Homo sapiens: one gene and its partners. The main gene of each other region encodes a partner of the protein of the gene in region 3 in a complex. Each region holds a gene or a part of one and is shown on either strand. Other genes may lie near its edges. The genes, in order: RBM10, KIF11 and MYSM1.

Region 1 (10,716 bases), on a different chromosome or scaffold from region 3:
GACCTCAAGTGATCTGCCCACCTCGGCCTCCCAGGGTGCCACCCACGCCTGGCCTATGGTTTCATTTCTTATGTTTAAATCTTTGATCTATTTCAAATATATCCTGGTATATATGTGAAGTATAGTCATAATATCTTGCACATGTCTAGGTATTTAACCTTTTTGATGAATTGTACTTGGGACCTTTCTATTTTCTAAACAGTGGTTACATTAATTTGTACCCAGCATCCTTACTGATTTATTATTTATAACAAGTTTTTCAGTTGATTCTCTTAGGCTTTGCAGGTATACTCTCATATCATTTACAAATAATGGTAATTTTACCTTCTCCTTTCCAGCTTTTAACCTCTTTTCTTCCTTCCCTGTTTAATTGCTTTAGCTAGTGTCTTTAGAATAATGTTAAGAATGCTGTTGATAACGGACATTCTAATGTTGTTCCCGACCAGAATTGGAATCCTGTTAGTATAGTAGCATTCTTCTGTGGCATCTAGTTTTTTCTATTTTAAATAAACATATATTGGTTGCTCTTAGAATGCTTTTTTAGTCATTATTTGTTCAAAATAATTGTTGAGCGCCTACTGAGTGCTAGGGAATATGGCAGTGAGCTAAGGGTCCCCTCATTTCCTGGAGCCCATATTCTAGTAATTTTTTAACTCACCAAAGAAACACAGATTAGGCCATGCACAGTGGTGGACGCCTGTAATCCCAGCACTTTGGAAGGCTGAGGTGGGTGGATCACTTAAGCCCAGGAATTTGAGACCAGCCTGGCAATGTGGTGAAACCCCATCTCTACAAAAAATACAAAAATGAGCTGGGCGTGGTGGTGCGTGCCTGTGGTCCCAACTACTCAGGAGGCTGAGGTGGGAGGATGGCTTGAGCTTGGGAGGTTGAGGCTGCAGTGAGCCCTGATAATGCCACTGCCCTCCAGCCTGGGCAACAGTGCCAGATCCATTCTCAAAAAAAAAAGAAAAGAAATGCAGATGAAATCAGCTTTGAGATCATTATTTTACAGTTATTGCGGTAGGAGAAATTTTAATGAAAGAGCTGCTAGTGTCGGCAAGGTGACAGTGAAGCAGGGGCAGGGGACGTGGTGCAAGACAGGGAGGAGGAGCCTCACCCCCGGGGATCCTGCAAGCCGAATGAGACCTTGGTGAGCATTTTGGTATTTGATCCTGAGACTGAGGGGGAGCCACTAAAGGGAGTGAGATGGGTTTGAGTGGCTTTGCCTTAGAAAGCACTCACATTTGGGATTTGGGATGTAGAGACTGAACTGGGGAGGTCCAGGTAGAAGTGAGGAGAACAGCCAGGCCACAACCAAGGTGCCCCATGAGGGAAGCCAGTGGCATGGACCAGAGAGTGACATAGGGATGGAGAGAGGCAGGTTGCACTTCAGAGATGTGGAGCAGGGATTTAGGAATCCCTGTATGGGGGCGGGCCTGAGGGCTTCCAAAGAATAGAGTAGGGGGAGGGAAAAATAGAAAGTTTACAGGGTGAGAAACCTGGCAGACACTGCCTTAACCAGATGACCATGGTTAACATCACCAGAGCTAAGTCATGGTGGTATCATGTACTTCTTTCTCTGATAGGATCAGAAGGGCACCTCACTTCTGTTGTATGCTCCTCCAAAAAAACCAAAACCCTACGAGAACACATCACCTGGGCCTCTTGCACCTTTTAGAAAGGGCAACCTTCTGATCCCTCCCCATCCTTCTTCCTCCACTAGTGGTGGTCGTGGTGACAGGACTGGCCGCTATGGAGCCACTGACCGCTCGCAGGATGATGGTGGGGAGAACCGCAGCCGAGACCACGACTACCGGGACATGGACTACCGTTCATATCCTCGCGAGTATGGCAGCCAGGAGGGCAAGCATGACTATGACGACTCATCTGAGGAGCAGAGTGCGGAGGTGAGGAGGGGGCGCGCTGCGCCAGGCCTGGCTGGGATGGGCTCCCAAGGGCCCTCTGTGTCTGGCTGCAGCACCGTGTGCAGGCAGCTCTCCACTCCCGTGCCTTCAGACTGTGCTCGGTGGCTTTGCCTCACCTGGAGGGCCTGTTCCCACTCCCCTCTCTGAGGGCTCCTCTCCCAACCTGGGTCTCCCTGGCTTCCACATGCTTGGCTCTGTACTTCTGAGGGCCCCTGGCCACCACTCTTTCCCTTTCTCCCTGTTGTTCAGTTCGGGCCCATGGCTCACTGTGAACCCTGTACTGCCCGCTCCCAGCCAACTTGGGCACTTGAAGAGCCTCTTCCATGGGACCCGGCGTCTGGGGTTGGGAGGACAACAAGGGGACTGCAGACCACCAAGCTGAGGAGCTCTGGGAGGCCAGCCATGGGCATTCCCAGTGGTGATAGAGCCCCTAGACAGAAGGGAAGGACCCTTCTGGAGAAGCCAGTGCCATGTTGGGTAGTTCACCCTAGCCTGCGGGATGAGGCGCGATGTTTACACCATCAGGGAGCCCCCACCCGAGGGGAAGAAACAGGCTTGCCTTAGGGGAATCCCAGTTGGAGGGGCAGTCAGGGACCTGGTCCATGCGAGCAGGCAGCTCTCCTGTCCAGCAGGCTGGGAAGGGAGTTCTTGCAAGCCCAGCCCTGGGGGGCAGTCTGTGAGCTGCCCACTGCCCTCTGGAGGGTCCAGGGCAAAAACCCCTTTGGTGGACTGCCAGGCTTCTCCAGTGGCAGCTGTCAAGCTGTGCCCAGACGTCTCCAGGAGCACTGGGCCCTGGCCAGGGTGGGAATGGAGCACCAAGTTATCTGGTGCTTCCCCACTGTGGGCGGGAGGGCTTTGGCCCCAGGCCTGCTCTGCTTAGTCCTGGAATGGATGGATTGGGCAACAGCCCAGAGCCCAACAGCCATACCGTTTTGAGCGTGGTGTGTGGTGGAGGACTGGCCAAGGCTGAGGATCAGGGACTGAGGAGGGAGTGTCTGCAGCCCTCACACCACCTCCACCAGCTCCTGCTGCCTGGCTCTGGCTGAGATCTGAAGCTGTTCTTATGCCCCCAGCTTGGTTGCAGGGTGGAACCGTAGGAGACATGCAGCCTTCGGTGGTACAGTGAAGCAATTGAGCACACCCCCTGAGCTGGCCAGAGAGGAGAGGAAAATCAAGGGTGGGGTCTGGTGTGCTGACCCCAGGCCATCTTGCCCCAAGGAGGTTTAAGCTGTGTCTTGTCAGCTACCTTTGGGAGTTCCCCCCACACCAATACTGTCACCTACCTCTCCCCACCCACTGAAGGCAGCCCCCAAAAGGACCCCATGGAGAATTTACAGTCCCAGAAAGATTGCAGGCCGGGGCCTGCCCACCCTGCCTGCCTGAGCCTTTAGCCGGAGCCCGCACATCCCTGGCTTTCAGAGCCTGCCTGCCTCACAGAGCCAGCGGCCAGCTCCTAGGCCTGCCCAGACTGACTGCCCGTCTGGTGTCACTCATCTCATTCTGTCGGCCAGGATTCCTACGAGGCCTCCCCGGGCTCCGAGACTCAGCGTAGGCGGCGGCGGCGGCACAGGCACAGCCCCACCGGCCCGCCAGGCTTCCCCCGAGACGGCGACTATCGGGACCAGGACTATCGGACCGAGCAAGGGGAGGAGGAGGAGGAGGAGGAGGATGAGGAGGAGGAGGAGAAGGCCAGTAACATCGTCATGCTGAGGATGCTGCCACAGGCAGCCACTGAGGATGACGTACGTGCCCCCCATGGCCCCGGGCAGGAGGCCAGGCTGGGTCTCCTCCAGGGCCCTCAACTTCTCCCCACCCCTCCCTCACCTGCAACCTCAGCGCCTTTCATCCCTTCTCCCCCTCCAGCTCCTATCCCCCAGCACTGATCCGTCCTCTGTGGGCAGGTCCCATCGGCCCCCCGGTCTGGAGGGAGGAGTGTCAGAGAGGCCGGCTTGGCCAAGGGACATTGGCCATGGGTGTCTGGTAGTGGTGGGTATGGGCGGGAGAAGAGCAGTCCTGCACATTCCACTGGTCATCCAGCCATTTTGCATGTGTGCATCATGGGCCAGACGCTCACCGGGCCAGTGCTGGCTATTGCTGGTAGCAGAGATGACACTGGGGCCCTGTAACCATTGGGGGAGGGATGGGATTTTCTGAAATTTCCTTCTCTTTTTCCCCCATCCTTTTTTGTCAGCAGCCTGGCCTGGCCTCAGAGCCTTGGGTGGCTGCTAACAGCCTCCACGCCTGCCTCCCTTTCCTCCTGTTTCCTTTTCATACATACTTCTCATGACAGCCACACTGAAGCCCCACGAGGCCTACCAGAATAACCTCCAAGAATAGTGTCCTGATCTTGGTCCTTCTTAGTCTACTCCGCCGCCCCTCACCCCCTACCCCCATGAATTCTCTGATCAGCCCTCCTCTGAAATCTGCTAGCTGCTCATTTTGTAACAGAGAAAATCCCACTTGTGTATTTGAGGGTTTCTAAGGTCTGGCCCACCTGCCCTGTTCAGGGTCAGACAGTAGCTGGTTGCTGACATTTGTTGAGAATGTATCTCAGGGTGGGCCATGTGTTAGGTATGATTCAGTCCCCATGGCAGCCCAGCAGGGAAGGTACTCTTTGTATTCCATCCTTCGGATGAGGAAACCAAGCCCTGAGTGGGAATGTGACTTGCCCCAGGTCTCATAGCCAGTGAGTGGCAGAGCAGAGCTGGAGTCTGAACCCGGGCAGCTGGACCCTAGAGCCCACTTTTTGCTGCTTCCTCAGCCTTCCCTGAGTTTGGAGTCCTGATAAGCTCTTCTGTGTGTTTTTCCTTTTCACCCTGTGTATGGGTGTGTGTAAGGCTAATGTCCTGTCTGTTGTTTAACCTGGTGGGGAAACTGAGGCCCAGAGACATGAAGACTCCTTCCCAAGAATGGCTGGCATAGGCTCCTGGTCCTCAGTGAGAGACCTCACTGGCCTAGAGACCCTGCCTCACCTGGGCCAAATCCTGAATTGCCTCTGCAGTTTCCCTCTGGCCTACTCCATCTGGGAAGCAATCCCCAGGACTACATCTTTTTGCTTTTTGTCTCCACCCTAAGTTATTGCTACAGTCATGGTCTAGGGCACATGGCTGGGATTTGCTCAGACTCCTGTCCTCCCCAGTTTGACATTTATGTCATGGATCTCTTTTGACGCAAGCTGCAGGTCAGCAGGGCAGGGGCGGGGGTGCGGGTTATCCCCTTGCCAAGGGCAAGAATTGCATCCCAGGTTTCCTTACTTCGTGGCTGCCAGCGAGCCCTTTGTCAGATCACCCTGCCCACCGTTCTTAAGTGGCTGGCTCACTTGCTCTCTTGTTCTCTGTGCCCCTGAGGGTCGTCCTGCTGCCATGCTTTACCTTGCTCTGTGCCCATTTCTTCATTTGATTCACTTTCTGCAAGTCTGGGGCTGAAAGTCAAGACTGTGAACTGGTGTGGGCCTGGGGCTGTTGTCACTCAGGGAAAAGCTGCGAAAGAGGCGGAGGAGACTGTGTGCACATCACCGATGACCCCTCGGGATCCAGAGGCCTCCAGCCAGCCTCAGGTACCCAGCGGCCCCATTGTGCTGAGCCTGCCCTACTCTGTATCTCCCCGTATAGATCCGTGGCCAGCTGCAGTCGCACGGCGTGCAAGCACGGGAGGTTCGGCTGATGCGGAACAAATCTTCAGGTGAGCTTTTGTTCTAGTGCCCTCCCCTTCAAGTGGCCAGCCTCAGCCTCCGAATCTCCCTCCTGCCTCTGCCTTCTCCCCCACTCCCTCCACCACCTTCCTGCCACAGCTGGGAATGGGCAGCGTGGGGGGTGCCCTCTCTTCTCTCCCACTCCCCACACTCTCCTCACAGCTCCAGCCAAAAGCCTCTTCAATGGGGCTGTCGGGGCAGGGGTGCAGCTCTGAGCTGAGCTGGGTGCTCCCTGGGGTCAGGGCCAGGGCCAGGCTCCCAGGCACCTCCTCTCTGGGACTCTGAGTATCTGAGATGGTAACCCCCTCCCATACACTCCCTTCCCTCTCCTTTCTTCTCCTTCCTCTGCCCCTCACTTTCCCCCACATTTTTTGGTAACAGCCTCTGACCAGAAAGTAGCTCTGACGTGGTGGTCCCACATGTGTGTCCCAAGGGGGAAGCAGGGGATGGCTCTTATCCAAGGACACATCCCAAGGAACAGCCAGGACTTCCTGGCCTCGCCTGTTCCCTCCCTCCCTCCCTCTTGCAGGCTGCTTGGAGCTGGCCTGAGGTTAGCAGGGTGGTGGTGGGGGGAGTTGTCTCTACAGGACCTCTGCCCAGGCTCCCCAAGGCAGGCACAGTGGGGCCTCACTCTGCCTGGGCTTCTCTCTCCATCTCTCAGTCTCTCCTCCCCACACCTCCATCTCTCTCTCTCTCTCTCTCTCTCTCTCTCTCTCTCTCTCTCTCTTTCTCCCTCTCTCTCTTTCTCTCTCTCTGCCCCCCCCAACTATATTATTCATTCCATCCTCCTATGCATCCTAACGGTTATTCTTTTGAACATTAAGCATGCCCCCCCAAGCCCCTCTCATCCAAGCCCTCCCCATGTATCTGCCTCTAAAGGACATGCTATCCTGAGGCCTCAACCCTGAATCCCTTTCCCAAGCCTGGAATCTTGGTTGCATGTAGGTCTTGCTCTGCATCACCCCAACTACACCACACACGGACAGCTTCTGGGTCTCTCTCTCCACAAGGAGGTGTTCCAGGTGCGGCCTTCTCAATGGCCCTGGGCGCTTCTCCCAGGCACCCATTGATTCTTACCTCTAAGGTCCTCCTGGCCAATCCTGGCCACCATTCTCCTTTTGTCCAGGGGAACCTGGACTGTTTGTGGCTGTAGTCTCCACCCTGTGGCCCTGAGGTGGCTCCCTAGCGAGGCCCGCCTCCCCTGCGCTGCGGTGAGGCTGAGATGAGGTCGTGTCTTTAACCGCCCCTGGTTTCCAATGGGCCAAGAGCCTTCCTAGCCTCGCAGAGCAGCCTGGCCCAGCTTCTCTTTTGCTCCTGTGATTCAACACCTGTTACAGGACCCCTCCTGGGCACCCCTGGCCTTGAGCTGGGCCCGCCCTGGAGTTACGTATTGTGGCTTGTGTGGAGCCAGCAGCCTGCCCACCATCCCCTCCCTCCTTCTTTGGAGGCAGATCTCTCGTATTCTTTCCCTCCCAGCTGCTTCTCTCCGTCTCTGTCACCCCAGGCTGGCTGGGCAGGTCTGCCCGAGCCCCATCTCTCTCTTCCCAGTTGGTGTGTGTGTCTCTCCCCCTACCGACCTCTGGCCTCTGTTTTTCTCCCTCCACCTTCCCTGCCCCACCTGGCCATCTACCTTGCCCCCCACGCCCGCTAGTCTTTCTCTCTCTGATTGCCTCTTTCTCTTTCTTCCTTTTTCCTCTTCCCCTTTCCCTCTCTGCCCCCCGTCCTCTCCCCTCGGGTCCCGCCCCCGGGAACGCCGTGTGTCCAAAGCTGTTGACTAACCCACTGCGTCTGTATCTGAATGCTGTCTCCAGGTCAGAGCCGGGGCTTCGCCTTCGTCGAGTTTAGTCACTTGCAGGACGCTACACGATGGATGGAAGCCAATCAGGTTGCTTTGCCGCACTTGAACCCCCCCCCAAACAAATACTACTTTGTAATCGAGCGCTCCCCATCGCCTGATTCTTATGGACACAGTTCCCTGCCCTGTGGCCCTGTGTCCCATCCCCCCGCCCCCTCTCTCCCCTTCCTGACCCTCACTATCTCCTCTTCCCATCTCTCGCTACCCCACTGGGCTTCTCATCCAGAGCCCACACTCACCACTGGCCCCTTCCTACCACCAGGCACTAGTGCTGCCCCTTCACCTCTCCCAGCTGAGCGTTCAGAGAAAGAGCTGCCAGGGTGGGTTCTTTCACCTAGCTTCCCACTCCCCCGGGGCTGGTGGGGGGGGCACCCCTCTCTGGGGTTAGCCAGAGCCAGGACCTCATTCCACCCTCAGGACCACTGGAAGTCCTGCCAGTGAGGAGCTTAGCTATTGGCACAGTCACTAGCAAGACTCATTTTGTCAGCCCCATCCCTGCATGTGAATTTGGCCCTTTGATTTTCATGCAAGGGGACAGCACTGCTCTGTTGATCTCAAGTTCCCGTCGAGTATGATAGTTTTATCGACACCCTGGCCTCACTTCGCCGCCCCTACCCTTCCTATCACATCTCCACACTCGCAGGAGGCACCACCTCAGGCAGCTCTGTCTTCTCGGCAAGGACCTGTGCACAGTCAGCCCTGGGGGGAGCCTGTCCCCCAAGCCTGGCACGGGATCCCAACTCAGCAGCTTTGGGACCTCCGAGACCCAAAGATCTGCCTGGTCACCCACCCCTGCCCAGATCCCTGGTGTAGGGCACTGGAGAGCAGTTTCAGGGGAGGAAGGGGCAGAGGTGGTAGAATGGGGGATCCCGGCAGAGGCAGCCCTGGGGCCGTCTCCTCGGGGTTGGTAGGCTAGTGCCATGGGCCCAGGACCCAGCCATCCATGGGAAGACGGCCTCATGGCAGAAACTTCCATCTGTTCGAAATGGCTCTTTCTTTTTCCCCTTCTCCAGCACTAGCGCACCTGCGCTCTCTTTCTCTTTTTCTCCCCTCTCCCTCCCCCTCCCTGTCTCCCCTCACCCCCCAAGTGTAGCCTGTGTAGTCCTGGCCCTGGGTGTGGCCTGGCAGTGTCAGGGCCGAGTGGGGGTTTCTCCCCACTGTCCGGCAAGCGTCGGTCAGCCGAACACTGTGTGCCTGGTGGTGTGTGTTCACATGTGTGCGTGCGTGTGCCCGGCAGAGCAGCAAACAGCTGCGCCCGAGAGCTGTGGCGCTTTCCCTCCCTACCTCCCTTCTTCCCTCCATCCGCTCTCCGACCTCCCTCCGTTCCCTGTCCCTCATCCATCCAGCTGAAGGGCTCGCTCACTCTCTTCTCCTATGCTGAAACGGTGCGTGGGGCACTGCTGCCTGGACCTCACTGTGCTCTGCTTTTTCCCGCAGCACTCCCTCAACATCCTGGGCCAGAAGGTGTCGATGCACTACAGTGACCCCAAGCCCAAGATCAATGAGGACTGGCTGTGCAATAAGGTACAGGGGCGGTGGGCAGCAGTTGTCATGGACAGAGACAGCAACAGCAGTGGCGGCGATCTCTCCCTTCCTCTCCCGCTCTTTCTCCCTCCATCTCTCCCCCTCCCCCAATCTCTCCTCTCCCTCTGTCTCTCTCTCTCTCTCTCTCTCTCTCTCTCATTCTCTATCCCTTGCTAGCTCAGCTTGAGTAGTCACCATTCCTAGCCAGCCATATACAAATGTGTAGTGAGCGTTCACTTGGTGCAGGCTCTGTCCTCCTAAAATGCAGTCTTGCCTGGAGTTCCAGTAGACTTTAAGGAAATATATACGTGGATGATGAATTAGTGACAGTGTAGACTTGAAGTGGTGGTGTGGAGAATGTGGGCTTCAGAGCCAGACTGGCTGAAATGAGACTATCCCAGATCGGCCTTGATTTTGGCCAAGGTGCTTAGCCTCTCTTTGCCTCACTTTCCCCATCTCTAAAATGTGAATATTAATGACACCTCTCCCAAAAGGTGGTTGGGAGGATTCAGCTGTGTTAATGAGAGAGTAACACTCAGAACAGTGCCTGGCCCACATTTAACACAGTCGAATTGTTAACTGTAATCATGAAAGAAAAGCACAGAGCGTTCTGAGAGCCCATAGCAGGTAGCTCAAGCCTGAAGGCCACTCTGACCAGGCCAAGTCAAACCTGAAACTGGAGGCTGTGGTTTTGTAGTCACCTCTGTCTTCCCTGAGGGGAAGCTGAGGCTCAGAGAGGTGGAACCATGGGTGAACCTTTAGCTGTGCCCTGTGCCTTGCTCCTGATCACAGGGACTTGGATGCCACAGTGGCTTCAGGTCTGCCCTGGGGCCAGCATTGTGATTCCACAGTTTGTAGAGGCCCCAACCCTCTCCCCAGGAAGTACTCTGCCTAGTCAGGGAGAGTGGTGCATCTGTTTTAAAAAAAAAAGTCCCATCAGAGGATTGGTGCTTAACATTTCTGGAGAGATAAAGACAAAGTGACAGTGGAACTCCTTCCTGTGTTTCCAGATAGCCTCAAAACCAGGGAATTCTCTTTTTTTTTTTTTTGAGACAGGATCTGGCTCTGTCGCCCAGGCTGGAGTGCAGCAATCTGGGCTCACTGCAACCTCTGTCTCCAGCGCTCAAGCCATCAGCCTCCAGAGTAGCTGGGACCACAGGCGCATGCCACCACACCCACTAATTTTTGCCTTTTTATTTTTATTTTTTTTGGTAGAGACAGGGTTTCGTCATGTTTGCCAGGCTGGTCTTGAACTCCTGAGCTCAAGCAGTCCTCACGCCTCAGCCTCCCAAAGTGCTGGGATTACAGGCGTGAGCCACCACGCCCAGCCCAAAACCAGGGAATTCTCTTGAACTCCTTCCCCTCCCCTGCATCCTGTTGGCCACCAGGTCCTGTCACTTCCATCACAGAAACGCCACCTTCCCTCCCTCGCCATTCCCGCTGCTCATGCCAATCGTCACGCTCTCACCCACTCACTGTGGAGCCCTCTCTGGTATGCTGGCCTCTTGTCCTCTTTCTCCCACGCCCTCACCTGGAACATTCCTCAAAACCACCTCTGACTACCCACGCCTCTCCTCCTCTGCTTAACCAGCCCCAGCTCAGCTTAAGCATAAGATCCTCCATTACCTAACTGGCTTCCTTCCCCGGCCTTGGCTTTTGCTTCTCCCCTTACTCTCCCACACCAGTTTCGGAAAGTCCATTGTTCCCTCCGATAACAATCC
Region 2 (10,709 bases), on a different chromosome or scaffold from region 3:
TTAAGAAAAATAAAAATCAATTTAAAATAGTTTATTCGAGAAGTACATATACTCCTGAAAGAGAAATGCCAGAGCAAACACGTGGGCAACGATGTTGCATTGTTAGAATTCAGTTTAACTAGACTTAAATTATTATTATTATTATTGAGACGGAGTCTTGCTGTGTCGCCAGGCTGGTGTGTAGTGGCGTGATCTCGGCTCACTGCAGCCTCTGCCTCCCAAGTTCAAGTGATTCTCCTGCCTCAGTCTCCCGAGTAGCTGGGACCACTGGCACACGCCACCATGCTAAATTTTTTTTTTTTTTTTTTTGTATTTTTAGTAGAGACAAGGTTTCACCATATTGGCTAGGATGGTCTCAAACTCCTGACCTGGTGATCTGCCCATCTTGGCCTTCCAAAGTGCTGGGATTACAGGTGTGAGCCACCACACCCGGCCCCAGCTAATTTGTTTGTTTTGAGATGGAACCTCGCTCTGTTGCCCAGGCTGGAGTGCAATGGTGTGATCTTGGCTCACTGCAACCTCCACCTCCAGGGTTCAAGCGATTCTCCTGCCTCAGCCTCCCAAGTAGCTGGGATTACAGTCACGTGCCATCACACCCAGCTAATTTTTGTATTTTTAGTAGAGATGGGGTTTCGCCATGTTGGCCAGGATGGTCTCGAACCCCTGACCTCAGGTGATCTACCTGCCTTGGCCTCCCAAAGTGCTGGGATTACGGGCGTAAGCCTCCGTGCCCAGCCGAGAAATGTTGATTATTAGGCTGAGTAGTTTGAACTCAACAAAGGCAATGTAAAATGACATTTCAGGGACTGCTTAGTGCAACAAAACACTTACATGGGGCCATTAGACCCTAACTATCTCTATTAGACTTAGCCCTGAGGGCAAGTACAATAATTCAGCCTGTATATTCACTGCCAGGCCCACAGTAAGCATTTCAAGAAGAGTATGAGAAAAGTGGATGTGACCAGGCATGGTGGCTCATGCCTGTAATCTCAGCACTTTGGGAGGCTGAGGTGGGTGGATCACGAGGTCAGGAGTTCGAGACCATCCTGGCCAACATGGCGAAACCTCGTCTCTACTAAAAATACAAAAATTAGCTGGGTGTGGTAGCGCGTGCCTGTAAACCCAGCTATTCAGAGGCTGAGGCATGAGAATTGCTTGAACCCGGGAGGCAGAGGTTGCAGTGAGCCAAGATTGTGCCACTGTACTCCAGCCTGGCGACACAGCAGTACTCCATCTCAATTAAAAAAAAAAAAAAGAATACATGTGCACTTAGCAAATGAAAAAAACTCAATGGGAAAGACAGTAGTTAAGAACCTGGGAGTTGGAATGGGAAAGAATTCTAAGTTCCTTCCCTAATAGTTAACCTTATACTATGATTAAAGTGTAAGTACAGTGATATGCTGTATGACTACAGACAAACTTATTTGGCTAGTTTACTGATAAAATAGTAGAAAATAATAGTTCCTACTTCACAAAGTTGTTCTGAAGATTAAATGAGATGATACACACAAAGCCTTTAGCATGGAGTCTGACTCACAGTAAACCCTAGGTAAATGGTAGCTGTATCTATTATCAAATGGAGACTCTTGAATTTCTTGCGTCAACCCATGTGACTGTTAACATATATATTGTTTGAATATTTGCTAAAGAGAAAGGAAAGACGGCCCAGCAGGGTAGCTTATGCCTATAATTCCAGCAGTTTAGGAGGCTGAGGTGGGAGGATTACTTGAGACCAGGAGTTCAAGACCAGCCTGGGCAGCATAGGGAGACCCCCATATCTACCAAAGGAAAAAAAAATTAGCCAGGTCTGGTGGCTTGTGCCTATAGTCCCAGCTACTCAGGAGGCTGAGATGGGAGGATCCCTTGAGCCCAGGAGGTCCAGGCTTCAGTGAGCCGTGATGGTGTATTGTACTCCAGCCTTGGTGATAGAGCAAGACCCTGACTCAAAAAAAAAAAAAGAAAGAAAAGGGGATTTTTTTTTTTTTTGAGACAGAGTCTAGCTCTGTCACCCAGGCTGGAGTCCAGTGGTGCCATCTCGGCTCACTGCAACCTCTACCTCCTGGGTTGAAGCGATTCTCCTGCTTCAGCCTCCTGAATAGCTGGGACTATAGGCGCCCTCCACCACACCTGGCTAATTTTTTTTGTATTTTTAGTAGAGACGGGGTTTTACCATATTTATTGGCCAAACTGGTCTTGAATTCCTGACCTTATGATCTGCCCATCTCGGCCTCCCAAAGTGCTGGGATTAAAGGCATGAGCCACCGTGCCCAGCCAGTGTACTTTATATGTATCCCAGGTACTTTATATGTTATTTTAATCCTCACAATAATAGTAATTATTATTATCTCCATTTTACAGATAAGGAAACCAAGGCTGATAGAGGTGAAGTAATTTCCTTCAGGTACTCAATATATATTTATTGAGTAAAGCCTTACTTTGGTGTAAGGCTTGTTCAAGACACTGGGAAAATAATACTGAACAAAAAGACAGGGTCCCTAATGAAACTTACATTCTATCCAGGGAGACACACAATATATTGACAATATAATATATTGTCAATACACACAATATATTGCCTGTAGTGTTATGAAGAAAATAGACAGGGTTCTGAGATAGAAGGTTATAAGAGGAAGGCCAGGTGCAGTGGCTCACATCTGTAATTCCAGCACTTTGGGAGGCCAAGGAGGGCAGATTACTTGAGGCCAGGAGTTCGAGACTAGCCTGGCCAACATGGTGAAACCGAGTCTCTATTAAAAATATAAAAAAAAATTAGCCGGGCGTGGTGGGGCACTTGTAATCCCACCTATTCAGGAGGCTGAGGCACAAGAATTGCTTGAACCCAGGAGGCGGAGGTTGCGGTGAGCCGAGATCCCGCCACTGCACTTCAGCATGGGGGACCAGGACAAGACTCCGTCTCAAAAAAAAAAAAAGAAAATTATGAAGAATGTGCTTTAGATAGGGTGGTCAGAAGAGGTGTTTTTAAAAGAAAAAGTTCAACTGAGAGCTGAAGAATGAGATGGGTAAGCCATGCAAAGAGCCAAACAGAGTTCAGGGCAGAGGGTACGTCAGGTACAAGGGCCTGGCCACAGGAAAAAGCTAGGAGCTCTGAAGCATGGTAATGAGATTTTTGGAAAGTGCCTTTAGTTGGTGGTATGGACAAGGGCCAGATCATGAGGACCCTACAGAGCATGGTAATGAGTTTGGATTTAATTCCAAATACAAATGAGAAGGTAATGTAAGATTAAAAAGCAGATGAAGAGCATAATCTTATTTTCTTATTTCTTAAAAGACACTTCCCTTGCTGAGTAAATGTAGTGGAGGAGTTGGGGGTAGGAGAAAAGGGCAGAAGAGAAACTTGTTAAGGAGGTAGATGACATTTGTTCAGGGAAGAGATAAGAGCCTTGTACTAGGGTGATCATCGGAGGGGAGATAAAATCAACAGGACTCCACTACACGTGGAGGAATCAAAGGTTCTGGTTAGCACCAGTATCCAGATGAGAAAAGATTAGGGTGGAGATAGGTCCCATTTTGAAATGCCAGCGAGCCACCTAAGAGGAGATATCAATAGACAGCTGGCTACTCAAAATAGAGATGACCAGCAGAAGGAGCTGTAGATGCAGTTATTTCCTTGGGGCGGGTTGTGCGGGGGGGCGCATGTAGGGGATTAGCAAGTGGAGGAACACAAAAAGGACATCAGAGCTTTCCACTACACCGGGTTGTTACTTAATAGACTAACACGACATTTAGGTTCCCATGGGTTGTGTGGGCCAGAAGCGCAGTTCCAGGAACCGACTACAACATAGTGTGGGATATGATGTTTCTCTTCAAATAACCCGATCAATCTTTTATTCTTTAATTCATAGTACCCTCCCTTTTTTCTCTTTTTCTCCTTTTTTGCTTTTGTTAAATGCCCAGGCACGCCACAATACTAGGCCTTATCAATACCAGCTCACATTCCTTTCCTTATTTGAAGGGACTAACTTTTTAGCTCATTACAGACACCCCTTCCCCTTTCCTGTCCGCTTTCTTTTAAGTACCCACCTTAGCTAAAAAAAATCAAATGTTTAGCCAACCGGGATTAGTTTAGATTATACGACCCGACCCCAGCCAATGGGAAAAAGATACAGGGGCAGGACTTGCGTCAAAAATAGACTCCTGCCCCTTTGTTCAGGTGTGCTCTCAAGGCGACTGGCCAAAAAGGCACCCCTCTGCGCAAAAATAAAATTGCTTTGCTAAAAATCCTTTGTTCAAGTGTTCAATTTCCTTAAGATTTTAAAAGTTATTCATAACAATAGGCTCCTGTTTCAGTATTTCCTGGTGCGGCGTACCACACCTACAGCGGTCGAGTCACGCCAGGCACTGCCAAGACGCCGAAAAGTTCTCCCGCAGCAGGCCGGAGGTGACCGACGGCGCGCAGGCCCCAGCGAGCGCTGCATGCTGGGATCCGTAGGCCGGGGCGGCGGATGTTTGCGCAGCTTCCTTGAGATGCCACCGCCCGCTGCGCCGCGCAGAAACGGGGAGCGCAGCGCACCCGCGGCCTGCGTCACTCGGTCAGTGCAGTCGTTCTAAAATCGAGGCGGACCCTGCTTTCTTGCCTGGAGTCACTTAGAGATGATGACTAAAGGATAAATTCAGAGTCCTCCAAATGGCGTCCAGTGTCCATTTCATCACGATTTGGAACCTGTAGTAGCCTTATCGCTTAACACTTCCTAATTATTATTATTATTATTTTCTTTTTGAGAAAGGGCATTGCTCTGTCGCCTATGCTGGAGTAATCCAGCGACATAATCCCGGCTCACTGCAGCCTCTATCTCCCGTGTTCAGCGATCCTTCTTCCTCAGCATCCCGAGTAGATGGGACCAAAAGGCACGCATCACCACACCAGGCTATTTTTTCCCCTCTATTTTTTGTTGAGACCCGTTGGGAGGCGCGGGGAGGGGGGTCTCCCTATGTCGCCCAGACTGGTCTCAAACTCCTGGAACTTAAGTTATCGTCCTACCTCGGCCCGTTAAAGTGTTGGGATTACAGGCCTGAGCCACCGGGCCCCAACATTAATTATTCTTCAAGCCTATTCTGGACCGGGCGCGGTGGCTCACGCCTGTAATCCCAGCACTTTGGGAGGCCGAGGCGGGTGGATCATCTGAGGTCAGGAGTTCGAGACCAGCCTGGCCAACATGGTGAAACCACATCTCTACTGAAAATACAAATATTAGCCGGGCGTGGTGGCACGCACCTGTAATCCCAGCTACTCGGGGGCTGAAGCAGCAGAATCGCTTGAACCTGCGAGGCGGAGGTTGCAATGAGCCGAGATCGCGCCACTGCACTCCAGCCTGGGTGACAAGAGCAAGACTCCGTCTCTCACACACACACACACACACACACACACACAAAGACTATTCTGGTCTCTGCCTCCGGGATGGCGGCTCGCTTTGGACCTCTCTTCTGTGCTTCTACTGCCCTCTCTTACAATTCTCTAATAATTATAATCATGGCGAGTGCTTACCATATATTCCAATCTATTTACTTCCACAAGCTCATTAATTCTCACCCTAACCCTCTGAGATGGTTACTATTATTTCCTCTCTGCAGCTGAGGGAATTTTGGGCTAGGGACGTTATGTAAGTTGAGCCACGCTACGCTAAAAGTTCCACACTCAATTCTAGCGTCTCGGCTCTGGACTACCAAGTTCCGGAGCAAGCAGACAGACCACCTCTTTACGTTCCCGTAGGCCACGCTCCGGGGGCGGGGCTCCAGTGAGGATACTGCATCCCATGGTGCCTTGCGCGCCAGCGCAGCCATTGGTCCGGCTACTCTGTCTCTTTTTCAAATTGAGGCGCCGAGTCGTTGCTTAGTTTCTGGGGATTCGGGCGGAGACGAGATTAGTGATTTGGCGGCTCCGACTGGCGCGGGACAAACGCCACGGCCAGAGTACCGGGTAGAGAGCGGGGACGCCGACCTGCGTGCGTCGGTCCTCCAGGCCACGCCAGCGCCCGAGAGGGACCAGGGAGACTCCGGCCCCTGTCGGCCGCCAAGCCCCTCCGCCCCTCACAGCGCCCAGGTCCGCGGCCGGGCCTTGATTTTTTGGCGGGGACCGTCATGGCGTCGCAGCCAAATTCGTCTGCGAAGAAGAAAGAGGAGAAGGGGAAGAACATCCAGGTGGTGGTGAGATGCAGGTAGGGAGAGGGCTGACAGGATTCCGAGCGCTGCGGCTTCGCTGCTGGGCCCCCTACTGCGCGGTCCAGGGAGAGGGATTTTATTTGCATTTCCTGAGGGTCCCAGTTTCTTGGTTCTCCGCGTTCTGTTCAATAAAAATGACACCCGGTTGCTGTGTGTATGTGGTTTTTAGGAGAAAATAACATGTTTGATTTGATCACTGTTCCATACTGAAAAGTGCGTTCTTATGTTTAAACTATAGTCAATAAAGATGTAGGTGTCACTTTTATATGCTACTTCATGTAGTTTGTCAGTTTGGAAGTAAGACTGAATACCTATTTTGCAGATGGTTAAGCACTTACGTTGGTATTATTACCTCTAAAAAGCAATCAATCACTGTTCTCTTTATTCTAGATGCAATATTTTCTGCATCCCTACTAAACAAGTAAACATCTCTGTCTTTAAACATTAAAAATTAATAAAGTGAGTTTATGTTTTTTAAAAGATCAAGACAAGTTAAGCTAGTGTAAATTTCTGATTGTGCTGCAGTTTTCCCTTTCATCTGCGTGTTTGTTCATAGACCAAACTAAACGGATATTTCGAGATAAAGGGATGTGGAGGGGTGTTCGGCCCTCCCCTGACTGGTTTCCAAATAACTTCCCAATTTTAAAATAAGCTAGAAACTGCTGCTTAGTTAGAATTGATTTATTCAACTTTTTAGAGGCTCTCCACAGTTTACTGAGTATGTGTGTTTTGTGTGTCCGTTTTTGTGGCTGTTAACAGTTGCTGTTGCAACTTTTCTGTAAACCCCAAAGTATTCTAAAATTAAAAGGTTATTTTTTAGAAAAACTTGTATCAACAAACTTTCTTAGGCTATTGTTTACTCAGCCCTGGTAACTTGAATTGTGGATATCGAAGGTGATGACTAGGTTTCTAAACAAGGTGTCAGAGAGGAAATTGGGTGGCAATCTTAAGTCTAGCCAGTGACACTTACTAGTTGTTGTACTCTGGGGCTTCTGTTAGTAGTTAGTTGTTTGAAGATTTTTATTTAAAAATGCAGTGCATATAACAAGTGCAAATTTTAAAATTATTTTGGTTGTTTAATAAAACCAGGCAATATTACCTTTTCCGTATGCATTTATTTAATTTCTTTTTTAATGTTAGTTACAAAATATTTCAGACTTACAAAAAGTTATTAAGAACAATGTAATAAACATTTGTATATTCATCACCCAGATTAAGAAACAAAACAATCATTGCTGGAGCCCCCCTTTTCCCTCTCCATCCCTTTTCCTCCAGCCACTGTTAACCATTATCTTGAACTTGATGTTTATGATCCGTATACATTTCAAGTCTTAGAAGAGATTTACTTTATCACCAATGAATAGAATAGTTCTTTGCTTGTGTCTAATATTTACAATAATTTTTGTGTAAAGAGATTTTTTTTTTCAGATTAGCCTTTTTCTTTCAAATAGCCTTCCTGGTGCGTCTGTCATTAAGCATTAAGCTTTAGTAAATAGGCAACTTATGAGTTGCGAGGTCCTCAGGGGTTGGTAAGCCTTTTCTGTAAAGGGCCCAGAGAAATAAATATTTATTTTATTTAAATACTTTAGGCTTTGCAGATCACATGTGGTTTATCAGTTTTTTTTGAGACGGAGTCTCGCTCTCTTAGGCCGTAGTGCAGTGGTGCAATCTCAGCTCACTGCAACCTCCGCCTCCCGGATTCAAGCAATTTTCCCACTTCAGCCTCTCAGGTAGCTGGGATTACAGGCGCACACCGCCATGCCTGGCTAATTTTTGTATTTTTAGTAGAGATGGGGTTTCACCATGTTGGCCAGGCTGGTCTCGAACTCCTGACCTCAGAGAATCCACCCACCTTGGCCTCCCAAAGTGCTGGGATTATAGGCGTGAGCTACTGTACCCCTTTACATGTGGTTTCTGTCACATTATTTTCTGATCTTTTTTTTTTTAAGAACACTTTAAAACTGTAAAAATCATTCTTAAATCTGTCAGGGCAGGGGCCAGGTTTGACCCACAGGTTAAAGTTTACAGATCCCTACATAATGCGCTACTGGTTCTCTTTCTTATGTCCCTCCTATTCCATCCCCTATTTTTTTCCCAATTTAAAAAGTCATTTTCAAACACACATAATATAAAATTTAACATCTTAACCACTTTTAAGTGTACAGTTCAGTGATATTAAATACATAATATTCTGCAACAATTACTACCATCCATCTCCATAACTCTTTTCATCATGAAAAACTGAAACTCTATACACATTAAACAATAACTCCCCATTTCCCTCTCCCATCAACCCGACACCTACCATTCGACTGTCTTATGATTTTGACTACTCTAAGTACTTCATAAAGTGGAGTCATAATACAGTATTTATCCTTTTGTGACTTGCTCATTCCACTTAGGCATAATGTCCTCCAGGTTGGACCATGTTGTAGCAAATGTCAGGGTTTTCTTCCTTTTTAAGGCTGCATAGTATTTATTATATGTATATACCACATTTTGCTTGTCCCTTCATATGTCAATGGATACTTGAGTTACTTCTTTTTTTGTTGTTGTTGTTTTTGAGACCGAGTCTCGCTCTGTTGCCCAGGCTGGAGTGCAGTGGCGCGGTCTTGGCTCACACTGCAAGCTCCATCTCCCGGGTTCACGCCATTCTCCTGCCTCAGCCTCCCAAGGAGCTGGGACTACAGGCGCCTGCCATCTCTCCCGGCTAATTTTTTGTATTTTTAGTAGAGACGGGGTTTCACCATATTAGCCAGGATGGTCTCCATCTCCTGACCTTGTGATCTGCCCGCCTTGGCCTCCCTAAGAGCCGGGATTACAGGCGTGAGCTACGGAGCCCGGCCTTGAGTTACTTCTTACTTTTAGCTATTATGAATAATGTTGCTATGAATATGGGTTTTCAATTCTTTTGGGTATTTACCCAGAATTGTAATTGCTGGATCATATGATAATTCTATTTTAAAGTTTTTGAGGAACCGACAAACTATTTTCCACAGTGGCTGGACCATTTTACATTCCTACCAACAGTGCATAAGGGTTCCAATTTCTCCACATCCTCACCAACGTTTATTTTCTGTTTCTTTTTTTTTTTTCAAGTAGCCATCCATTGGGTGTGAGGTGCTATCTCATTGTAGTTTTGATTTGTATTTCCCTAATGATTAATGATGTTGAGCATCTTTTCATGTGTTTACTGGCCATTTTGTGTATCTTTGGAGAAATGTCTGTTTAAGTCCTTTGCCCATTTTTAAATTGGTTTGCTTTTTTGTTGTTGAGTTTTAGGAATTTTCTATATATTTTGGATATTTTCAGATACATAAACGGCAAAAATTTTTTCCCCATTACTGTGGTTTGCCTTTTTACTCATTGATACCGTGTGGTCTTTTCCTTTCTTTTTCTTTTTGGAACCAGTGCATGGCCTCTTTGTTGATTCTGTGTTTGGCCCCAGTGCAGCCTGTTCTGTGCTATGTGTCTGCAGTGCTGAAACCAGGCCTACCCAGCACCATACAGAAGTCCAGGCTGTAGATACCAATGCATGGGTCACATTTGATACCCAAATCTGTGTGTTCCTGGATCTCCAAACCAAAGTTTCCAGTATCTGAGAAGTTGTTCTTTCTTGATTCACACTCCTGCATCTTTAGACCTTTCTTCAGGGTTTCTTCTGCTTTGGCCCTTTGTGCAGTGGGTGGCAATCTTCACTTCTCCTGATGCCAAAGGATCTGACAATGTATTTGACTTTGGAGAACACAGGGGTCTGGCCTATGAGCTGCTCCAACACCTTGGCTGCTGGGGTCAGTCATCTCCAGTCTCCTCCATACAGATGTTGAGACAGAAAATCGTTCTGTCACCCAGGCTGGAGTGCAGTGGCACAGTCTCGGCTCACTGTAACCTCTGCCTGTCAGGTTCAAGCAATTCTTATGCTTCAGCCTCCCAAGTATCTGGGATTACAGGTGTGCACCACCATGCCTGGCTAATTTTTTGTATTTTTAGTAGAGATGGGGTTTCGCCTTGTTGGCCAGGCTGGTCTTGAACTACTGGCCTCAAGTGATCCACCCATTTTGGCCTCCCAAAGTGCTGGGATTATGAGTGTGAGCCCTCATCTGGCCAGAGTTCTCTTTTTTTTACCTTGATCTTGCACTATGATGGAGAAAAGGAAGATAAAGTCTTTTTTTTTCCCTTGGGTTTGTTTGTTTGTTTGTTTGTTTGTTTTTTGAGACGGAATTTTGCTCTCGTTGCCTAGGCTGGAGTGCATTGGTACGATCTTGGCTTACTGCAACCTCCGCCTCCTGGGTTCAAGCCATTTTCCTGCCTCAGCCTCTAGAGTAGCTGGGATTACAGGCATGCGCCACCACGCCTGGCTAATTTTGTATTTTTAGTAGAGATGGGGTTTCACCATGTTGGTCAGGCTGGTCTTGATCTCCTGATCTCAGGTGATCCGTCCACCCTGGCCTCCCAAAGTACTGGGATTACAGGCGTGAGCCCGTGCCTGGGCTATTTTTTTTTTCTCCCCTTTAAATATAGTATCTTGCTTT
Region 3 (10,716 bases):
AGATCTACTAGCCTTCAATCATTACAGAAGCAAAACCTAGACGTGAACTGACAGAATTCAAAACTCTTATTTCCTATTAGAAAGTTAAATAAAATGACTATTTAAATTTAATTGTTAGATTTATACCATCATTCTTAAAAATGACCAATTGTTAAGGCTAAAATGGAAACATGGCACTTTCAAATTTAATAAAATAAGAAAAATGTTCTCCATTGTGTATAATAATAATCTGCTAAAATCAGCCAACACTGACAAATTTATTCTAAAATAGAATTTTTTCTATGTGCAAGCTTGGGCAACAAAAAACGTTACTAATTATCTCCTAGAAATTAATTTTCCAAAGGAAAAAGTAATAAAAGAAATATACAGAAAATTATCCACAAAGTATTAGGCATCATGGGAAAACACATTGAGATGAATAGCTTCAGAATCTGTGAACAATGGAACCAATTAAAATGAAGACAGCTTACTTTCTGCAAACAAGTCAGGTCAGAATCCCGGCGAAAGATTTTATCCATGGGGACGCTGCTGTAGGAAGAAATATGAAAACAAACTGGTGAAACGAATACTATAAACTAATCAGTTTCATAATAAACTATCACGGATGCCATACATCACAATTTTATATTTAACTTGGGTTTTCTCTGAAACATAATTTAATGAGCAACACTGCAGATGTGCAACCATCTCAAACCACAGTACATACCTATGGGAGAGCCTGTATTTTTCTATTATCCATCTTGTCTTTTCAAATACTAATCCCCACTGAGGTTCTTCTAACATCTGCTGTACTTCAAATTTGTAAGGTAAGCCTAGAAAAGCATAAAGAAGCACATTGTCATCAACTATTTCTTAACTCTCCAATCTCCTTTTAATTATACTTAAAATTCCCTTCGGTGTTTTTACAGCCATAGCTTTGCAGATCAGCTGAACAGCACTTTAAACATAGTGGGCATTCATTAAATATTTATTGCCCGATTGTACTTGGTCCACTAAGCATATTAATGCCAAGCTATTAATAATAATAATGAGTAAAAGTGCCATTTACATGACAATTCTACGCATGGCACTATGATGGGATGATCACGTAATTTATCACCTAAACCAAGAGACTTTTTGAATGAAAGAAGGTACTATTAATAATTATGCCTGAACCGCAGGTTTAAAGTGGGATTATCCTAGACAAACTAAGACATATTGCCATCCTAGTGATAATTAAAAATATATATATATACAGGTTATTAAGCTTACAACAATGCTGTAAGTTATTGTTTTTTTTTTAACAGGTGAGAAAACTGAAGCTGAGATACATTAAAAATCATATTTAGGCTAGCAAAGTGGCAGGACACAGATGTTAAAACCCAGCAGGTTTGCCTCACTTCTGAGCCCAAACTCATTCCACCTCCCTAGAAGAGCTAATCTAAGACTAGACAAGAGGATAGGATGAACTCTGGGGAGGCAGCAACTGCTTTGAGTCAAAGTTGTTATACTAAACTCTGGAGGAAAGAAAGAAGCCCAAGGGGTGAACATCATATATTCATCTAGAAAGGAAAAAATACCAAACGATGAGTTATCTTAGCAATTTTTCACATATCCTTCAAGACCCCCATGCAAATGCATCTATAGCATTTTTTTAAAAGCTCAGCTGATTCACTAGCAAAGGCTGATACCATCATAGTAACACTTATAATGCATACTATGTGCCACCTAAAACTTAATGTGAAATCACTTAAATGAAGTAGCTGCCATTATTCACCCCCCCCTTTTTTTTTTTTCGATGAGGACACTACGTCATAGAAAGGTTAACCTGCTCATGATCAGATATAAAAGGCATTGGCAGGATTTGAACCCAGGCAGTCAGGCTCGAGAGTTCTGCTTTTAACTTATACATAATACTGCCTCAACTGGGTTTCTACCATGGTAAGGAATAAATAAAATGCCAGCAAATCAGAAGGCATGGAAAAAAAAAAGGGGAAAAATACAATTATTTCCTCACAATGAAATAAAGCATAGCTTAAATGTCAATATGCTCTAAAAAGGCATTTTTTCAGGTGTTTGGAAGGAAAGGGGACAGCAAGCCTGATGATGATGACTGATCTTTTTTATTTAATTGCTCAATTTTCCTCTTCTCCAAAAACTTAAGAAGAGTGACACACTATAGTACACGGGGTATTAAGCAAACTCCTTATGGTGATAACAGTCATTTACTTGACATGCTTTGATTACTTACTAAACATGGATACCATCTATATAATGATAACCACCCACTGAAAACCTATTATTTGCTAAACACTTTACATATATTACTGACACACCTTACAACCATATACCTACTGTAAGCAAGGTAGTAATTTTTTCTCATTTTACAGATGTAGCAAAGGAGAATGAGGGAGTAGACTGCCCAAGGTAAAATAAGCAATAAATGTCAGAGCTGGGATCTGAATCCAGTAGAGTGACTCCTACTCTCAATGAAAGTTGAAGATGAAAATAAAGAGAGGTAAATAATGCATTTTCAATCTATGCTGATGCAAAAACATGAAAACATACACACAAATTATATACAGGTCTATTTGGTATTTTTAAGAATATTTTTTAAGTTAAAAAAGGTACTTTTAAAGTCAATAAGTTTCTTTTATAGAGAATATTTTTATCCACTAAAATATCAGAAGAAAACTGATCACTAAATATATTTCCTGCCTGTCACAAGTAAAGAAAACATTAAACCATTAGAGATATTGTAAAGATATGACCTGAGTTAAAAGTACTGTAGCACAAGGTATCCCATGGCTTCTAGAAAACCTTAATTCTTGCACCAGAGGATTTCTAAGGGCAAAGCAAAAGACCTAGGATTAAGATCTAATACGCAGTGTTAAGCATGGACAAGTCATTTACAAGACAGCTCTGTCCAATGGTAGCTCATGGGAGCATCATGGATAGTTCCCTCTAATGCTTTCAAGTAGTTCTTTCCCATCTGGGCTAGTTTATTCACATACATGTGCTGATCTGTACTTTGCTAAATACTCCAGGGATACTCTTCTACAAATCTCCAGAGTTCACTCTCCATTCTGCTTTCTGTTCTCTTGGGGCTCTGTCTCACAAACTCAGCTGTCTTGGTCTCCTTATCTCCATCACCTTAATTGAGTCGGCCTGGCTCTGGGTGGGTTTCTCCTTCTTGTGCCATATCTGAAAACCCTCTTAAGCAGTAAGCTAGGGTAATGTGGGGCTCTTTTCATTTGTTTCCCATCTCTTAGCAATCGTATTCCTTTGCTGCTAAATGTTGTGTTTAAATACCATTATTTTACATATTTTGTCCAGTTTTTTGGTAGTTTCAGACAAGTTCTTTTTACTTCATTTTGGCCAGAGTAGAATTCCATGAACTAAATTTTAAATTTCATGTAATTCTAATCAACTTACATTTAAAGTCACACGTACTGCTATTGTACTGGATAGCATCAGAATTGAGGTTCATTACCAAAACCTAGCAGTCTGTGAGATTATAAAATCAAGTCAGATGATGATTTAAAGATGGTTTAAAAATGATTTAAAGAGAACAAGTTAATTGCGATTCTTTTTATAAAACTGTACTGAGCTAAAGAATAATATGTATTATGTGCTATGCTCAAAATGGACATTCCAGACTAAAAGCTAATACCAATATTATTAATTCAGTAAAAACCCATAGTGTTGACCACCTCCTAGATGCAAAGCAATTTATTAGGTGCTACTTGAGAAAAAAGACAAATAAGACACAGTCCCTGCTCTTTGGGCATACAATTTATTAGGACTTGCTAAATAGATAAATTGCATTAAAAGACAAAGTGACCATGAAGGCAGGAATAAAGTGTTGCAGATACATAAAGAATAAAGCAACTAATAGTAAATAACATGGGGGCAGTGCTGGTAAATCTACATCAAATATAGGGCATCCAAGAGAGATCATTAAGAATGAAGAGAAATTAATTATTAAACAAATATTCATTTAGTATCTACTTTATGCCAGGCCTCATGCTAGAAACAGGATAGAAAAAATGGGTACAATACAGTATTTATTCTCAAAGAGCTCATAATCTAATGGGGAAGAGTACAATGTGGGGTAACTGTAGTGGCAGTGTCCAGGGGACCTGACCTATAGCAGTGGTAGTAATGACAGAATAAATATCCTAGAGTTATTTAGCCTACTGTTTCCTCTGATTATTTGCTTTCTAGCCACACTCCCTTCCTTTTCCTAGTCTGCTATACTAACTCCCTATCCGCCCAGAAATGTTTGGACTACAAGTGGACATAAACCTCAGGGGAATCAAGTCAGATGATGGTCTATGCCAACCAAATTCTTTCCTGAGATAGAATGGGAACAAAGAGAGATACAAATTGAGTTAGTCATTGTTAACCCTAAACCGGGAGGTGACAGAGAGCTGGTGGTCATTTTTTTTTTCATTTGCATGCCATCACAGAGAAAGCCAGTCTGCATTTATAAAAAAATTTTCATGAGAACAGAGACTGTTTTGTTTACTGCAACATCTCCAGTGCCTAGCATACACACTGCCTGGCCATAACTTTTCTCCATATTTCAATCCTTTTGCCCAGTGGCCATGGTAACAAAAGTGGGGACTTGAATATAGCAGGAGATTAAGAAACGGAAGAGGGTGGCTGCACTAGGGTGGCACCCAAATAATGATTCCCTAGTTGAGGGCACAAACTCTTGCATTAAATAATTTTAAACAGTTGCAAATCTTTTGATTTGTATGAGTCAAAGAAATAAGAGTAGAAAGAGGATAAAGTTATTTTTGTTGAAAACTTACGATAAGAGCCATCTGGGCTAATTTCCTCACTTATAACCAGGCAGGTAATCTGAGAATATGGTAAGGGATTATTTCGATTATAGGGACTAACAATCATCCCAATGAACTTTGCACCTCCTCTGGAGAAGTAACTCTACAATGACAAGAAAAATATAATTAGTTTCAACTATATAAATTCAAAAGCCAATATTTATCCATACTAACATTTTAAACATCTAATGGGGAAAAGCAGGAACAAAAAGGTGCATTAAAAAGTTCACATCTGGCCCGGCACAGTGGCCCACGCCTGTAATCCCAGCACTTTGGGAGACTGAGGCAGGCGGACTGCTTGAGGTCAGGTCAGCCTGATCAGGCTTGAGACCAGCCTGGCCAACATGGTGAAACCCCGTCTCTACCAAAAATAAAAAAATTAGCCAGGTGTAGTGGCACGTGCCTGTAACCCCAGCTACTCAGGAGGCTGAGGCAGCAGAATCCCTTAAACCTGGGAGACAGAGGTTGCAGTGAGTCGAGATCCCACCACTGCACTCTAGCCTGGGTGACAGAGTAAGACTATGTCTCTAAAAAAAAAAAAAGTTCACATCCAAACTGCAACTAAATCAAATGCCTTAGATATTCATCTCACACGGTACATTTTTCAGGCAAAAATGTGTTCAACCAAATCCAAAATGACCCTTAAAAATATAAAATGGCCTACACAATCTGTATTTGCCATGAATATATTTACTAATTGTATTCACCACCCTACATCTGTAATTCTTATCAATACAGTAATAATTTACAAATACCCTACAGCAAACCCAGTCACATATCAAGTGTAAAATCCCAGAATAAAACTTTTTCTTCAGCTATAAAAAATACATTATGTTTCTTATTACTTCAGTTGTATCTAGTCCCTGTCCTAGTTGTTCCCATCAATTTTTAAAGGCTCTGGGAGTATTTACCAGTGATACATTCATGGCTTGTTTGTACTTAATAAAATAACTGACTTTCTAAATGTTTACATAAACAATTATCAATCTTGCAATCAGAAAAAAAAATGCATGTTCTTTTAAAACCCCCAGTATATGTATTTTTTTTCTTTTTTTTTTTTTTGGCTGGGTGTGGTGGCTCATGCCTATAATCCCAGCACTTTTGGAGGCCGAGGCGGGCCAATCACCTGAGGTCAGGAGTTTGAGACCAGCCTGGCTAACATGGTGAAACCCTGTTTCTACTCAAACTACAAAAAATTAGCTAGGCGTGGTGGTGCACGCCTGTAATCCCAGCTACTTGGGAGGCTGAGGCAGGAGAATCACTTGAACCTAAGAGGCAGAGGTTGCAGTGAGCCAAGATCGTGCCATTGCACTCCAGCTTGGGCAACAAGAGCGAAACTCTGTCTCAAAAAAAAAATAATAATAAAAATAAATAAAAATAAACAAACAAAATCCCCAGTATAAAGAATATTAGAAATGTAATATGAAAAATGTTTAAAGTTTATCTATTTAAAAGGGAGCATTGAGGGGGTGTGCAACCATTTACAGAATATAAATATACATGTAATACCTGGTATTTAGCTTGTGTGTCAATATCTCGTAAGGAAGGATTAGGATCAAAAGCAGGATGAGAATGATACCATCCAATAACACTGAAGCCTCTAACAGCCAAGGTTTCTGAGGCCTGTGTTTGTGATACAGGATCCATCTCACACTGTAGTCCTGTACTCAGACTGTTACATGGTTCTGCTGCACAGACCTATAAACGATTGATCCTCAAATGATTATACTAAAATCCTGTTAATTCTATTACTCTAATGTTATAATTCTTTCAAAGATACGGAAACTTTTCAAGGCCAAGACTTTTATTTAACAATACCACAGTTGCCTTTAACTTGCAAATGACTTAAACTCCAAAAGTCTGATTATATGCTAGGAACTTAGCATGCATTTTTCTACTCAAACAAGGTCATAATAATGGTTAGTTTTCCAGGTCAGCCCACATAATACCTGTACAAAGGTATTCTTTCAATGACTCCTGTTACTTATGACAATAATTTCAACAGAATGATGCATACAAACTTTCAACTAAAGTGTTAGTACCTGTTTCTGGCCTCTTAGAAGTTGTAGCTTTTTACTAATAAAGGTAATGAGGACCCAAGGCCTGGCAATGTTCTCTCGGTGGTAAAAAGAAACAGGCGCTAGGCATATAGAATGTTAAGTCACTTCTGGGAATATATAACTTGCTACATTTGCATATTCTCATATATATCATAGGTAAAGTCTGTATTTTAATTATATTAACTGAATTCTATAAAAATATTTGGTATGGTAGTAGGACTAAATAACTAAAACATTTTTTTAAAAGAGAGAACTTACTTCAACTACTTTATCAACTTCTGAGTATCTTCCTCCTAACAGACCAATCACTTCTGCCATAGAAACATGAGCATGCTAAAAGAAATACAAGACAGACTTAGCCCAAACGCACAAACCCACCTGACAAAGTAACAAAACTCACTTATCATAAGAAAGTCATTTGTAAGTATAGCCATCATGCTTTTATAAAATAAAGTAGCATAGGAGAGGAACTAGATGCTAGGATCAGTGCACAGAAACTAAGATTTCAGGTCTATCTTCACTGCTGGCTGAGAAGCTTTCAACCAAACACTTAAAAATTCTCAGACTCTACTTTTGCAATTACAAAATGAAGATACCATTTACTCTCCCTACTCAAGGGAGGTATTATGTAAGGATACAAAGTAAAAATCACTCTAAATCCTTCTACACAAAGACATCACAAACACAAAAACTGTTGGAGGTATCGGTAGTTTAGTAAAAACAAAAAAACCCTCCAAATTACAGGAGTTGTGCTTTGTTTCAGTGATCTAAAAAGTGGCAGACACATATATTAGAAACTTAAAATAGGGTTAATGATGGTAAACAGTCTGCAAAAACTCACATTAATTTATTTTCTCTAAAATATGGAAACATGCAATTGTTTGGCTTTTCTCCAAAAGAAAAGACTTATTTTTAGATTCCTTGTAAAAGAGGACAGTTAAGATCCAAAATACACGTCTTCCATACTCTGTCTTACGCCTGCAATAAAAATACACAAGAGTAGAAATCAGAATAACTAAGTAAACACAATAGATTATCCTTACCAAATCCATTATTAAAAGTGCTTCTGAAGCCACTTTCACCTGAAATGGCTCCTGAAATATAAAAAACAAAACAAAACGGGGGAGCATAAAAATAGAGATTTTTGTTTTCCCCACCTGGAATGCCCACCCTGTTCTCCTTTATCCACCCCACCAAGTTCTCAGCACTAACCAAAGCTCAGCACAAACTAGACTTTTAAAACATTATGATTTAAAATTCCAGCAGGGAGAAATTCTCTCTCATTTTCAGTCTTTTTATACATATGCCTTGCACATACGGAAAAAGAGTAAGCATTTCCTGTTTGACGGGGAAGCGGGGATTGTCTACTGTCATTCATTAATGCATAAATAGTACCTGCTTTTCTTCACTAAAAAAATTACAAGGTATCAGTTGGAAGGGATCAAACGAGCTGAAAAAGAAAAAAAATTTTCAATACAATCTCAACAAGATTAGGAAAATAACATTTATTTGTAAATCTGAAAGTGTATATCAATAATCTAAACCCAAATTCTGTCTAAATGAGAGAGTTTTGTAGGAAATTCCATAAACCCTTTCGAAAGAAGCACTGTTCTTTTAGATTTAACAAGAACAAAAAAAAAACCCAGGAACTTTGAGATAAAGTTGCTCTGTTGTCTTAATTTCCTTTAACACTCAAAGAGGACACTATAAACTATCAGACATATGTCCCACACTAAAAGCAGATTTCAAAAAGTCCAATGAAAATATAATTAACTGTCATGAGACCCAAAAAAAGGTTCAAGAAAGATGGAAGTTTATCAAAAACACTTGTCAGTTCAATAATGTGCCCACTATAGAATAGGAACTTAAAACATTTTTTGAATGAATGAATGACAAACAGTTCTGGTAAAGATATTAATGTATTACTCCTATCATAAACTCTTCAAGTGAAAAAGTGGCCAGGTGCAGTGGCTCACATCTGTAATTCCAACACTTCAGGAGGCCGAGGTGGGCAGACCCCTTGAGCCTAGGAGTTTGAGACCAGCCTGGATAACATGGTGAAACCCCACCCCTACAAAAGAATTTCAAAACTAGCTGAGCGTGGTGGCGTGTGCCTGTAGTCCCAGCCACTCGGGAGGCTGAGGTGGGAGGATCACTTAAGCCCAGGAGGTGGAGGCTGCAGTGAGCCATGATTTCACCACTCTACTACTCCACTCCAGCCTGGGTGACAGAGTGAGACCCTGTCTCCAAAAAAAAAAAAAAAAAAAAAAAAAACAAAAAAGTGAAAAAGTAAAAAGAGGTGAAAAAGAGAGAACCTAAGCAAGGTCAAAAGCACACATAAATCTCAGAAATGTCAGTAAAGAATTGAGGCTTGAGAACTATATTAAGAACAATAAAAAGGTTTTTTAGGCTATCTTCAGGGAAAGAAAAACACACAGGAATACATTCGCATTAACACAACTGGAAGAGAGCAGGGCAATTCCATTTCCATTCAACCATAGATGGTTAGCTTCAAGAGAACATTTTGTTTTGCTTAATAATGTATCCCAAGTGATCAGAACCGTGCCTGACATATACAGTACACATTCAAAGATACTTGTTGAATAAAGAAAGACCTTTAAATTAGAAAGTGTTTAATCAACACAAAAAGAAACTGAAGGCCAAGATAGATGAGAAAATAGCACAGAAAGAACATCCTGGAGTACTTAAGAACCACGGATATGGAACCGCTGTCAGTGTTTGTTGAGGAACTGCAGAGAATGGGAAAGTTGCTGAAGGACTAGAAATAGACAATTATTGAGCTTGTTTCACAATACAAAAAAGCAGACTGCAGAAAAGGAGGAACTAGATGTTGAACAGTAGTAAAATTCTAGAAAAAATTATGAAACAGCTGATTTGTGATCCTTAACCAAGTGAAGAGGTGACTAAGTAAAATAATGAGTTCATGAAAAGTCATGATAAGTAGACCTTATTGTAGACACTATTGATAGGAATAATCTGTTAGAAACTAAAGACTTAAATATATTTTATCTGAAATTAAACAAGACATCCGATATGATTATCCTTCTGTATAAGATGAAGATATATGCGTTAATTGTGGTAATCTATATAGCTGATTGAAGAATGAATGTCTTCGTTGTTTAAATATATACAATGAGGTTTACATTTATTCAATTAAACATTGCAATCAGTGAGTAATGGCAGGAAAGGCAAGCTTATTGAAATGTTAATGATACAGTGCTACAAAGGCTAAAATGAGAAAAGTGGATCTGGATTCAAAAAGATCCTGAAGACCTTGAACAATGACTTGAAAATCACAATAAATATAAGTCTCACATTTAGAGTCAGAAAATCAATTATCTGGATACTGGATGAGGAGTCCTAGCTTATGGAGGACTATTTTTTACATAGTTTATCTAATTCAGTCTCACGACAACTGTGTAAGTTTTATTTTTACTTTAGAGAGGTAATATATACTGTAATGATTAGGGGTATGAACTCTTAAGCTTAACACTTGGGTTTAAAATCAACAGCTCCACTACTTGACAGCGTGAGCAAGTTATTAAACCTCTCTATGCCTCTCAGTTTCCTCATCTATAAAATGGGAGTGAGAACATTAACTAATGCACAGGGTTGTCATGAAGACTATATGAGCTAATAAATATAAAGTGCTTAAAATACAGCTAACAGTGTTATTTAAATTATTGTTTAATAAATGAGAACCTAAGGATTACCCGAGGACATTTATCAGGCAAAAATATGATCTAGTGGCATTCCTGGATATCTTCTTTTAAAAGGTACACTGACAAAACTACAGTCTATTCAAT

The links.
Region 1: MYSM1 (region 3) and RBM10 share a complex: the UniProt entries of both Homo sapiens proteins name them as parts of the large chromatin remodeling complex.
Region 2: MYSM1 (region 3) and KIF11 share a complex: the UniProt entries of both Homo sapiens proteins name them as parts of the large chromatin remodeling complex.

The regions. Positions count from the first base shown.
Region 1 is NC_000023.11:47,167,592-47,178,307, forward strand, and holds part of RBM10 (RNA-binding protein 10), read left to right. Parts: intron 1-1,723; coding exon 1,724-1,907; intron 1,908-3,436; coding exon 3,437-3,667; intron 3,668-5,536; coding exon 5,537-5,606; intron 5,607-7,427; coding exon 7,428-7,501; intron 7,502-8,908; coding exon 8,909-8,995; intron 8,996-10,716. UniProt on the Homo sapiens protein: Binds to ssRNA containing the consensus sequence 5'-AGGUAA-3'. May be involved in post-transcriptional processing, most probably in mRNA splicing. Binds to RNA homopolymers, with a preference for poly(G) and poly(U) and little for poly(A).
Region 2 is NC_000010.11:92,587,280-92,597,988, forward strand, and holds the start of KIF11 (kinesin-like protein KIF11), read left to right. Parts: upstream 1-5,850; 5' UTR 5,851-6,096; coding exon 6,097-6,173; intron 6,174-9,579; exon of another isoform or gene 9,580-10,010; intron 10,011-10,709. UniProt on the Homo sapiens protein: Motor protein required for establishing a bipolar spindle and thus contributing to chromosome congression during mitosis. Required in non-mitotic cells for transport of secretory proteins from the Golgi complex to the cell surface.
Region 3 is NC_000001.11:58,660,700-58,671,415, forward strand, and holds part of MYSM1 (deubiquitinase MYSM1), read right to left. Parts: intron 8,340-10,716; coding exon 8,285-8,339; intron 7,984-8,284; coding exon 7,933-7,983; intron 7,868-7,932; coding exon of another isoform or gene 7,862-7,867; exon of another isoform or gene 7,731-7,861; intron 7,223-7,730; coding exon 7,148-7,222; intron 6,528-7,147; coding exon 6,339-6,527; intron 4,933-6,338; coding exon 4,800-4,932; intron 2,824-4,799; exon of another isoform or gene 2,751-2,823; intron 813-2,750; coding exon 707-812; intron 529-706; coding exon 471-528; intron 1-470. UniProt on the Homo sapiens protein: Metalloprotease with deubiquitinase activity that plays important regulator roles in hematopoietic stem cell function, blood cell production and immune response.